Regions from separate parts of the Homo sapiens genome. Here region 2 is linked to region 1. The links come from fine-mapping of genetic effects on gene expression. A gene starts in region 1. The other region holds a variant in brackets. All regions are shown on one strand. Distances are from middle to middle.

The links. PIP is the estimated chance that this variant, and not a neighbour inherited with it, causes the effect.
Region 2: its variant is fine-mapped to the expression of AGGF1 in monocytes (TOPMed, PIP above 0.99). The same link has a PIP of 0.9 or more in whole blood.

What each region holds. Positions count from the first base shown.
Region 1 is chr5:77,027,340-77,032,719 of GRCh38, reverse strand. AGGF1 (angiogenic factor with G-patch and FHA domains 1) reads right to left here and starts at 2,316. Exons shown (of 14, transcript NM_018046.5): 1 at 1,744-2,316. The coding sequence starts at 1,953. RefSeq lists enhancers at 1,499-2,078, 2,090-2,439, 2,079-2,658.
Region 2 is chr5:77,065,006-77,070,385 of GRCh38, reverse strand. It overlaps AGGF1 (angiogenic factor with G-patch and FHA domains 1), which reads right to left. Exons shown (of 14, transcript NM_018046.5): 14 at 5,152-5,380. Among named protein-coding and RNA genes, the nearest start is that of SNORA47, 13 kb to the left of the region's middle. The variant A/G (reference allele first, on the strand shown) is at 3,136.

The DNA of each region.
Region 1 (5,380 bases):
TGAAGATTAGCAAAAAACGTTTTCTTTTAGAATCTCTAACGCAAGCAGTACTTCAACAATTTAGAATTATAAAGGAGCTTTTCAAAAGGCTGTCATGTAAAAAAGGCTGTTATATTTTGCTCCCGTCTCCCCATTTTTTTTTTTTTTTTTTTTTTTGAGACGGAGTCTTGCTTTGTCGCCCAGGCTGGAGTGCAGTGGCGCAATCTCGGCTCACTGCAAGCTCCGCCTCCCGGGTTCACGCCATTCTCCTGCCTCAGCCTGTAGCTGGGACTACAGGCGCCCGCCACCACGCTCGGCTAATTTTTTTTGTATTTTTACTAGAGACAGGGTTTTACTGTGTTAGCCAGGATGGTCTCGATCTTCTGACCTCGTGATTCGCCCGCCTCGGCCTCCCAAAGTGCTAGGATTACAGGCGTGAGCCACCGCGCCCAGCCACCTCTCCCTGTTTTTTTTTTTTTTTTTTTTTTACCATATTTGTATTTTCCTAGCATAGTTATTACACACCGTAGGTGTTTAAATTGACTAAACAAAAACTTTCCAATAATGTCATGTCAGGAACTCCATGTAATGGTCATACAAAGTCATTGCAACTCAACAGTTATTTTCATAGTCCATTTGGTAACAAAACAAAGAAGTCTGATGACGTTTCAGTGTTCAGCCTATATACTGGTTTTAGGAAACCACCAATAAATTATGAAGGACTAGACAACGGTCAAATTGAAACTAGTTACTATGTGGAAATAATCTGTTGGCAGAGAGGGCCTGCCAACAAGGTAGAAAAAAATACTATGCTCTTGGTTTTTTGGTTTTTATTTTGAGACAGAGTTGCACTCTGTCGCCCTGGCTGGAGTGCAGTGGCACGATCTCGGCTCACTGCAACCTCCACCACCTAGGTTCAAGCAATTCTCCTGCCTCAGCCTCCCGACTAGCTGCGATTCCAGGTGCCCGCCGCCACGCCCGGCTAATTTTTGTATTTAGTAGAGACGCCCGGCTAAATTTTGTATTTCACCATGCTGGCCAGACTGCTCTCGAACTCCTGACCTGGTGATCTGCCCGCCTCGGCCTCCCAAAGTGCTGGGATTACAGGCGTGAGCTACCGCGTCCAGCCAAGGTTGTTTTTAATGTGACAGTTTAAGTATTAACATTTGCCCCTACCATCTTGGAAACGAAATAAGCTGCTTAACGTCTCCAACAAAAGCAGTTATATATCGTCCCTACTTACACAAGAAAGCCGAAGATGATAAACGCCCAGAAGAGCAACCTTAAACAGGTATAGCATTCAAAAGTTTGTAAAATTGTTTGTTTTACTTCACCTTTACTACTGTGAGCTATCATTCTCATTTAATGGGGAACTGAGACTCGGTATATAAGTTCACACACCCAGTGAATAGCAGAGATGGGATTCTGACTCAAGTCCAGCATTTTAATAAACTCAAATGTGATCTACAGTAAATGCGCCTACTGCCAATGGGATGTTAGGTCAAGTGAGAATGAAGACAATGTAGCCACAGTACTTAAGTTCAATTCACGCCAGCCGCGAGACATTGATTTAAATCAAGTAACCTGAACTCAGGTTTGCTCCTAAGGTACTTGGAATTGTAACTGCGCTGAGCTTCTACTTATTTACTTTAAGTACTCTACAGTAGTTCTGAGCCCCTGCCAGGGACCCCTTCCGAGGCTATCACGGGCTTCGAAGGCCTCGCCTGGGCTGGATGGGGCGCGGGGCTGAGGAGGACCGCGCACCTGCGTGCGGAGCTCCTGGTTGTTGCTTTCTGCGTTCTGGTACAGCCGTTCTGTGTGATGCAGCAGCTTCTCGATCTCCCGCACCTGCCGCTTGCAGCTCCGCAGTTCACGTTCCAACTTCTCCACCTTCCGCCTTAGCTGGGCCAGCTCAGGCTCGGGGGAGGTGGGCGGCGGCGGCGACCGCGGCGGGGACGGCGCCTCCGAGGCCATGAGCTCCGGCGCGAGACTGCTCGTCGCCGCGGAGGGGCTGCGTTCAGGCCGAAACGGACGCCGGCGGACCCAGAGACCACTGGAGCGCGCGGGCAGCGAAAGGCAGCCTCACACCCGGCTGGCCGCGGTGGCCCCTGGCCATGACGCCCTGAAACTCACTTGTAGCCGAACGGGGCTGCGAGCAACGAGCAAGGGGACCGAGGATGGCCCCTGCCCGATGTGCGCGGCCTGCAAACCGGAAAACTTTCCTGGAAACTACCTTCTCCAGCTACAGAGACAGAGGGAGGAGCGTCGGATAAGCAGTCGGAAAACCAGAGGCCAGAAGAGCTCCAGCAGCTCCCCAGTTGAGCCGGAAACAACGGCGCCAGCGGCAGGCGGGACCAAGACGGAACAGGAAGCGACGGAAAGCGGGAAGACCTGACAGTGTACGTGCCGACGTCTCGGCCTGCGGAGGGGCGTTACCTGAGGGCGTGGAGAGCTGTGGCAATGTGGCTACCGAAGCCCTAAGAGCGACAGGGAGGCTTGCAGCCTCTGGTCTCAGACATTTGCACGTGCGGATGTTCTTTGAACAAACTTTTAGTATAGCATGCATTTCCTATCTCCTTGTTTTACAAATAAGAACAGAGTATCCCAGAAATGATTTGTGGGGACTATGATGCTCTACTTATGTCAACTGAAGAATGAGGAGGTTAATAAATTTAGAAAAGGGCTTTATTTCTCATGAAGGGTTACAGCCTGCAGGGTGGCCTTTCTGACAGGCTTGGAAGCATAGCCTCTGGTCAGAAGCTGAGAACAGACACTTGGAAGGAAGGACAAAGGGAACAGAAATTTATGCTGAGCAGGGTGGCCAAATATATTCAATGAGCTGTAGGAGGATTCATGAATATTTATGAAAGGAGAAATATGCACATGCACAATTAAGCTTCCTGCCTCTCTATGGGACCCATATTCAAAAAATGGTGGTGTTAGCATGATCCCAGTGTGAAGTTTTCAGCCCTCTGATGTCAAATGGCAAAGCAGAGGACATGAAAACCCTCGCTGTGAGTCCCTGGTAGATTGGCCAGAACTTCTCTGTGGTTGGTGGTCTCTTATCAGGAAGGAATGCTGGTTGGTGTGAAATCAGCCCAACTGTCCTATAGAACTGATGTTTATGGTTTCTTTTGAATAAACCTGGAAATTTACCCTCCCAGTCTTAAAACTTCAGAAAGTTACATCTTTCTTATCTGAGTTCCTTTCTTGGGAAACCAACCATGAGGCCTCCCAGATAGTATCAAGGAATTGAAACTTACCAGATCACTGCATCTGGACAATGAGGCACCATACCCCTCACCCATCATGATTGCCTAACCAGCCACCTGCTGCCTGTTGAACAAGTCCTCATCCTTACCGCTCACTAATTCCTGTTTTCTCACATGTAGTCACATTTCTCCCTTGCCATATAAACCTCTAATTTTAGTTGGTTGAGGAGATGGATTTGAGACTGATTTCCTATTCTCCTTGGCTGCAGCACCCAAATAGAACCTTCTTCCCTGGCAATACTCCTTGTCTCAATGACTGGCTTTCTATGTAGTGAACAATGGGTCTATTCAGTCAGTTCAGGGGCTCAGAATTTTACTTTTATTTCTCATTTAGTCATTCTTCTGGTTCCTGAGTTTAGACCCCCCGGGAAAATAGAGCAAGTACATTAGGTCTGAGTCGCAAAAAGGAGCATCCCTGGTGGGAAAATAAGAGAGAGACAATATTCTGTGGAAAAGGGGAGAAAAATGCTCTGGTTTGGTGCATTTATTTGGTCTTTTGTCTGCATGACCCTGGCATTGGTTTGCCAATATTTAAACTGATGTGGCCTTCTTTGGAACACACTTCCTTCCTTTGCCAAAGTCATTTAGAATTAGATCATGAGCTCAGAGTCCTGGGCCTGAGATTTGTGGAGGTCAGCAGCTGTGTCATGCAGATGCTCCTCTCTCAGGGCCCAGCACAGTGCCTGTCGCAGAGCAGTATCCGTAAATGCTGAACACAGCTGAACAAGAGAATCCTGTTTGGTGTCTTAGATCAGTGGCCACTTCCATTAACTATATTTTCTTATTTTTTGTATTCTTGATGCTCTGGCATCTGGGGTCTCCCTGACCAGGGAGATAACCCCTCCAAGGGTTAGCTAATTCCTAGACATAGCAAACAACTCACCCAGCATGCCACACACTGATCATCTACCTTCTTTATCAGGCTGTTACACTCCATGCCAATATTCCCCTGCCCTAATCACTCCAGGGCAAAGTACCAGACAACTAGGAACAACTCCTACATCTCAGATCCCACTGAAATTATGCAAACTAAACCTGCTTATCCTGATTTGTCCATTCCTTCCTGCAAAAATCACATAATGTTTTTTGCCATGTTTCCTCCCACTCCTTCTGCCTCCTTTGGACCTTGGTGCTTCTCCACATTGCCTTGTGTGGCTTGGTGTGCATCCTCCTCTTGGGCTGGGTGAATAATAAACTGTCTTTTTGATAGCAGACCATCTCCTGATCTGTTGGCCTCACCATACATAAATAATAATAAAATCTAAATTTTAAAATATGGCTCTGTATGTATTTTTGTCTTGTGCACTGCCCACTAGATTATTCATAAACAGTGAGCTTTCCAGCAGAGACCTGCCCTCTCTAGGGCCTGTACACATTCCTCCTTAGGCCTGAAGAGTTCTTCACAAGGCACTGTATCTGGAAACATAGAGATTCTACCTTATTGTCATGTCAAGAGTAACCTTAAGCCATCAAAGGAAGTTTAGTGAGAAGACATGGTATGTCCCCTGTGATGCAAAAAAAAAGATGTATTGCAAAAAATTTCTGACTTCCCTTGATGCATTATGACTCCATTAATGAACATATTGAAGTCCTTTTAAAAAGATGCTATTTTCTACTTTCTCCACCTATTTTCTTTAGGGGATAAGAAATTCCATAAATACCATTTGAAAGGTATCTTTAAGATGATATTTCAGTTTTTAGTAATTAACTGGAGAAAAAATAAATAAGCTTATTGACTGCTACTTGAAGCAGTGCTCCTCTTATTTGTCTTAATCTGTTCAAGGCTAAGTTATCTTTACCTTGTAATACCAGTCTGTATCCTACCTCTGACCATTAGAAAAGAATGACATTTTTTTAGAAAAAGCCTTGAATATCAGGAATTGCATTAAGGTGCTAGTATCAGAGGTGGTCTATAGTGGCTTATTAAACAAATTAGGGTGTTATCCTGTTACATTACAGAAGCCTAGAGAGGGGCAGTCCATGGCCAGTGACTCCACAGTTCTTCAGGGACCCAGGCTCGGTATGTCTTTCTGCTCTGCTATTCTCGGAGCATGTTTCCAGAGCCTCCAGGTCGATCCATGGTGCAAGATGGCAAGGGATGAAAGGACTTTCCCAAAGCCCCACTCAAT
Region 2 (5,380 bases), 38 kb before region 1:
ATCTACTTCTTGGAATTCTCCCTGTAGCTCTCATGCTCCCATAGAGTACTGAGAGCCAGGGTTGCCTGGCTACATCTCCCTATCATTCCTCCAGACGACTCCATTTCCAAAGTCATGTAGAATCCATTCCTCCTCCTTTAAGGATGATGAGAGTCACCTACAATAACTTCTGTCCTTTCTCACTATTGTCTACCAATCTCCTCCTCATTCTCCAATATTCACTTAGAAAGCCAGCTCCTGACTCAGTCTTCTTGTCCACATCTATCTCCTATTGCCTTGTGGAATGAGGATGACCCATCCACTACTTGCTAGCCTCATTCCTCATCCTACCTGACTTCCATAACCACCATCTCTACTCTGGGATTCTACTCCTACAACCATGTCCTTGGTATTGCTAGCATGGATAATAACAATGCTAATAATCACTAATATTTGGAGGCTTATTATGCACCAGACAGTGTGCTCAGTGCCACACAAACCTTATCTCATTTAATCTTCACCAAAACTTGAAACCACCTTTGCAAAAATTATGACAGTGAAAGAGATTTGACCTAACTGACTCCGTCTTGCTTCTATCCTCCACGCTGTCCTTGTTCATTCCTCGGCAAAGACCAAACTAACTTTTAGAGGAACTTAGTTTATATTTTAACTTTAAAACAAAGATGATAACAACCCTTTCTTGAAATAAACCCCCTTCTTGCTTGGGGACCAGACTGCCTTTGTAAGACTAACAAATTAGCCTCAAGATTAGAAATTATTGTTTAGGAGTTATGCAACCAGAGGCCATAAGATTTGAACCTCTCCAATTGCTCCTAGGGATAAAATCACTATTGTAAAACCTAAGATTGGTGGTTGAGATATCTTTCAGACCCTGCATTCTGATGCACCAGCTGGAGCCACCCAGACTGATAATCTGGCTCAACCAGTCCTGGCTCACCCAGGAACAGAAGACAGCAAGAAGAACCCACTTTGACCCCCTATGATTTCAACTCCGACCAAACCCATCAGTACTCCCCACTATCCTAGCCCCCATCTGCCAAATTATCCTTAAAAAAAAAACCCAGTCTCCACATTTTCAGGGAGACCAATTTGAGTAATAAAACTCATCTCCCACTTAGCCAGCTCTGCATGAATTAAACTCTTTCTCTATTGCAATTCCCCTGTCTTGATAAATCGGCTTTATCTGGGCAGCAGGCAAGGCGAACCCGATGGGCAGTTACAAACTCCATAGAAGACACTTGGGTAGAGAGGTTCAAATAAATTTTTAAAGGTCACTCAGCTTGGAAGTGGTAGAATTTTAATTTAAACTCAGCTCAGTCAGACTCTTCAGCCTGTGCTCTTAATCATCCCTGTGGGATGGAAAGAATCAAGATAGAAACCTCAGCCCTGCCACTTCTGTCACACCGGCTTTTTGACTTTGAGCAAAATAAAAACCTCTTAAGCCTCAGTTTTCTAATTCATAAAATGGTGTCCAGAATAAAGAATGTATGTTAAGGGCCTAGCACAGTGCCAGATGCAACACAAATGTGCATTCCATCCATTCCACCAACAAATGCTTATTGAGGACCTCCCAAACATCCAATCCTGTGCTAGGTGCTGAAGACAGAGCAGTGAATAAGACAAAGAAGGTTCCTGCCTTCCAAGATGTGCACAGCATTTGGTGGATGCTCAATAAATATTTGAACAAACTCTCAAAGAGGTCAACCTACACTCAAGATTTCCAGTCACCACTCTGCCTTTCAATCAACCATAGTTATTCTGCTATAAAGCAATCTAATGAGGTTCCTTTCCTGCTTAAAATCCTTCAGTGGATTCCTCATTGTCTCACAGATAAAATCCTTCATTTCTTAATTATGTAAATTTCTCAACACAATATGCGGTTTTGGCTACAGGTAAGAGGCTCGGTTTTGTTCACCCCTTCTTTGTTATGCAATCAAACCTATCTGGAAGCTTGAACTGCAAATCAGATGAATGTAGACCTATTGTAGTTAATGAGCCTGAGAACTGGAGTCACCACAGTTTGGCATCCTAAACTCTCCCCACCTCATCACACAAACATAGACTCACACAGCTGCAGCTCCTAAGGCAATGCAATGGGTTCTTTGAAAAGGTTTGAAAATCTGATTGTAGGACACAGCCCATTAGTGCATTATGAAAGCAATTTAGTGGATGCAATCAGTGATGTGGAAAACGAGTGTATTACATGAGCTTATGGCAAAGTACTGGTATACAAAATCTATGTTACATATGCTATGAACATGCTCGTGTACTGAACTGTAATACAAATTGTATTCACATTGTAGATCATCATCAAAATAGTTTGAAAGCCATTGTTGTAGATCCTCTATGTAGCCTCAGTTCCCATGTTTCTTCAGTCACAGCTTGATAAGACTCCATCAAGCCACTTGCAGTTACCCATTGTGTGCTTCAGTGCCTATGGTTGTATAAACCAGATGTGGTGCTAGGCTCTACGGATGCAATAGTAAGCATACCCAAGGTCCTGCTCACATGGCACTTAACAATCTAGAGAAACTGAGAAATATTACACTAACCACACTAATATGTAACTGTGAACCAAGCTAAGTGGTCTAAATGAAAGAAATGGTTTTTCAAAATACTTATCAAAGGCAATTAATCTAGTCCAGGGCTTCAAAGGAGGCATCCCTGAAGATTCAATCAGCAGAGACCTGAAGACTATGTGAGAATTAACTATGTAAAATGGGGGAGGAAGAGCATTCCATACATGTAATACAATGTTAAGAGGCTCTGTGATGAGAGAAGGCAGCTGTGTTTGACAAACTGAAAAAGGGGCCAGCATGCTAGGGCCCAGAGAACAAGTAGGAAAGTGACAAAAGATGAGACCAGGAAAGCTGGCAGTGGCCAGATCCCTTAGGGTTTTATGGGCCTGGAGTTTGTTTTATGGCCTCAAAGTAATGGGAAGCCAAACAGGAGACGATGAGATGGAAGTTGTCTGCAGTGTGGAAGATGGAGGAAAGAATGCCTGCAGGAAGACCAGTTAGGAAGCCCTCAGAATAATTTTGGTGACTGGTAACAGTGAACTGATTTAATATATTGGAAACAGACAAAGGGGAGAAAAGCTAGTGGTTGTGAAACAGAGGCTGACTCAGGCTTCTG[A/G]CTCACACAACTGGATGGATGGTGTTACCAGCTGGAGAGAGTAAACTAGAAGAGACTAGGTTTGGAGAAGATTATGGAGTTAGTCTTGGAGTTGCATTTAAAGTGACTCTGAGATGGATATGTAAGTCATAAGCTCAGAATCAATAACCTAAGACAGCCTAGAAGTCATGAGTTTATAGATGGTAAGTGAAACTGGGTATATATGTGAGAAAAATGCCTGGGTTTGAGCCATGAAGGCTTAACCACAAATTTAACCACTTCTGGGTAAATTCTTACCACAAGTGTGTATATACATACACATTAACCACACACCTGTTTACTTTTTAAAAGTTCAAATATAGAAATAATAAAATGTGAAAGTCTGCTCACTCTGGGTTATCAGCAACTCAATACACACCTTTGTAATTTAAAAATAAAAATGGGATTATGCCATATATACTTTGCTACAATCTGCTTTGTGAGATATTCTTCTACACTAGGGTATACACAGTTCTATCTTATTCATTTCAATGGCCAGAAAGTATTACATAGTAGGGATGCATCACAATTTAAGCAACCCTGTAGTCCCCACTGATGGACAAGTACGTTATCTGGCAGTTACCTCTACCTGCCCATTCAACATCCACTGCCCCCTTCTGCTTGGTTCACTGAACCTATTTCATTCCAACGGCAACATTCTCAGCTGCAGGTGATGGTTCATGACTGGCTTAAGCCAAATGTGACCATCTTGTTACCCACTTTTATAGCATCTCTTCTATGGGTAGCCATGCTATCTGGTTCTGGCTAATGACCCTAAGAAGTCAGTTTCTGAGTAAGCTGTTGTTTTCCTAAAAAAAGAGAACTAACACTACACTCTGCTCTTTCTTCTTTCTTCTTGCTTTAGGTATGAATATGATGTCTGAAATTTCAAAAGCCATTTTGCAACTACAAGGCCATAAGCCAACACTAAGATTAGTAAAACAGAAAAGCAGAAGAGATAGCCTGGGCCCTGAAACACACAGAAATATAAGTAACCACTGCCTCATTTTAAAGAATCAAAATCCATTTCCACTTTAAAGGCTGAAAAAGTAAAATGAAATGTTTGAATCAAAGATTCAGAGCAGAAATATAAGTTATGCCCTAATAAAAGAAGCACACTTACAACAAGATGGTGGGGAAAATACTTTCAACTGTTCCTGAGACTGCCTTTGAGTTTTGGGTCCACAAGTGCTTTCTTGCCCCCTGCCAAGGACATCCCTCTGTCCTGCAACTTTACAGAATGGCCTTCGTATGCAATCTCCAACGTCTCTTGCTTTCCCTTGTTTGAGATTTCTATCTTCTTTGCCTGCTCTTTAAAAATATGTCAAATTAAGAAATAATCTTTTGGACAGGCATGGTGGCTCACGCACGCCTGTAATCCCAGCACTTTGGGAGGCTGAGGCAGGCAGATCACCTGAGGTCAGGAGTTGGAGTCCAGCCTGGCCAACATGGTGAAACCCCATCTCTACTAAAAATACAAACATTAGCCAGGCATGTTGGCATGCACCTGTAATCCAGCTACTTGGGAGGCTGAGGCACGAAAATCGCTTGAACCCAGGAGGTTGAGGTTGCAGTGAGCTGAGATTGCACCACTGCATTCTAGTCTGGGCAACAGAGCAAGATTCTGTCTCAAAAAAATAAATAAATAAAAATCATAAAAAATTAAAAATATTCTATGGAAAGTCAGAAGGTTTTTGATTTGCGTAAACCATTACGTTCTATAAATGCAGGATAAAAATGACACATCAGAAGTAACACTTGTTTCAAAAGCAGAAAAAAGTTCCTCTTTTTGAGGATAAGGGTGCTTCCTCTATTTAATACTGGAAAAAATTTCTATTTTACTCTAATGTTGAAAGTTTCTTCTGTTCTCAACTTTGCCAGCTTATGTTCTGGCAAAAATATTAGATGTTAGATTTCTTAAAATTCAGAACTTGCAGCTCCACTTAAAATACATACTTAAACGCTACTCAGAAAATGTGTAGTGTGATTAAACAAATATTTAAAATTAGACACAAAAAATTTATGCAAAATTCAAACTGTATATAATTCACATTTATGCTTCTAAACAAATAGAAGCTCACATCTGTACTACTTTTACAATTTACAAAGTGCTTTTATATACATTTTCTCATTTGCTATTCATGACAGACACGTGAGACAAATATTCTTATTTTACAGATGGAAATAGACCCAGACATTATTCAGTACTTTAACCACTAATAGTGGA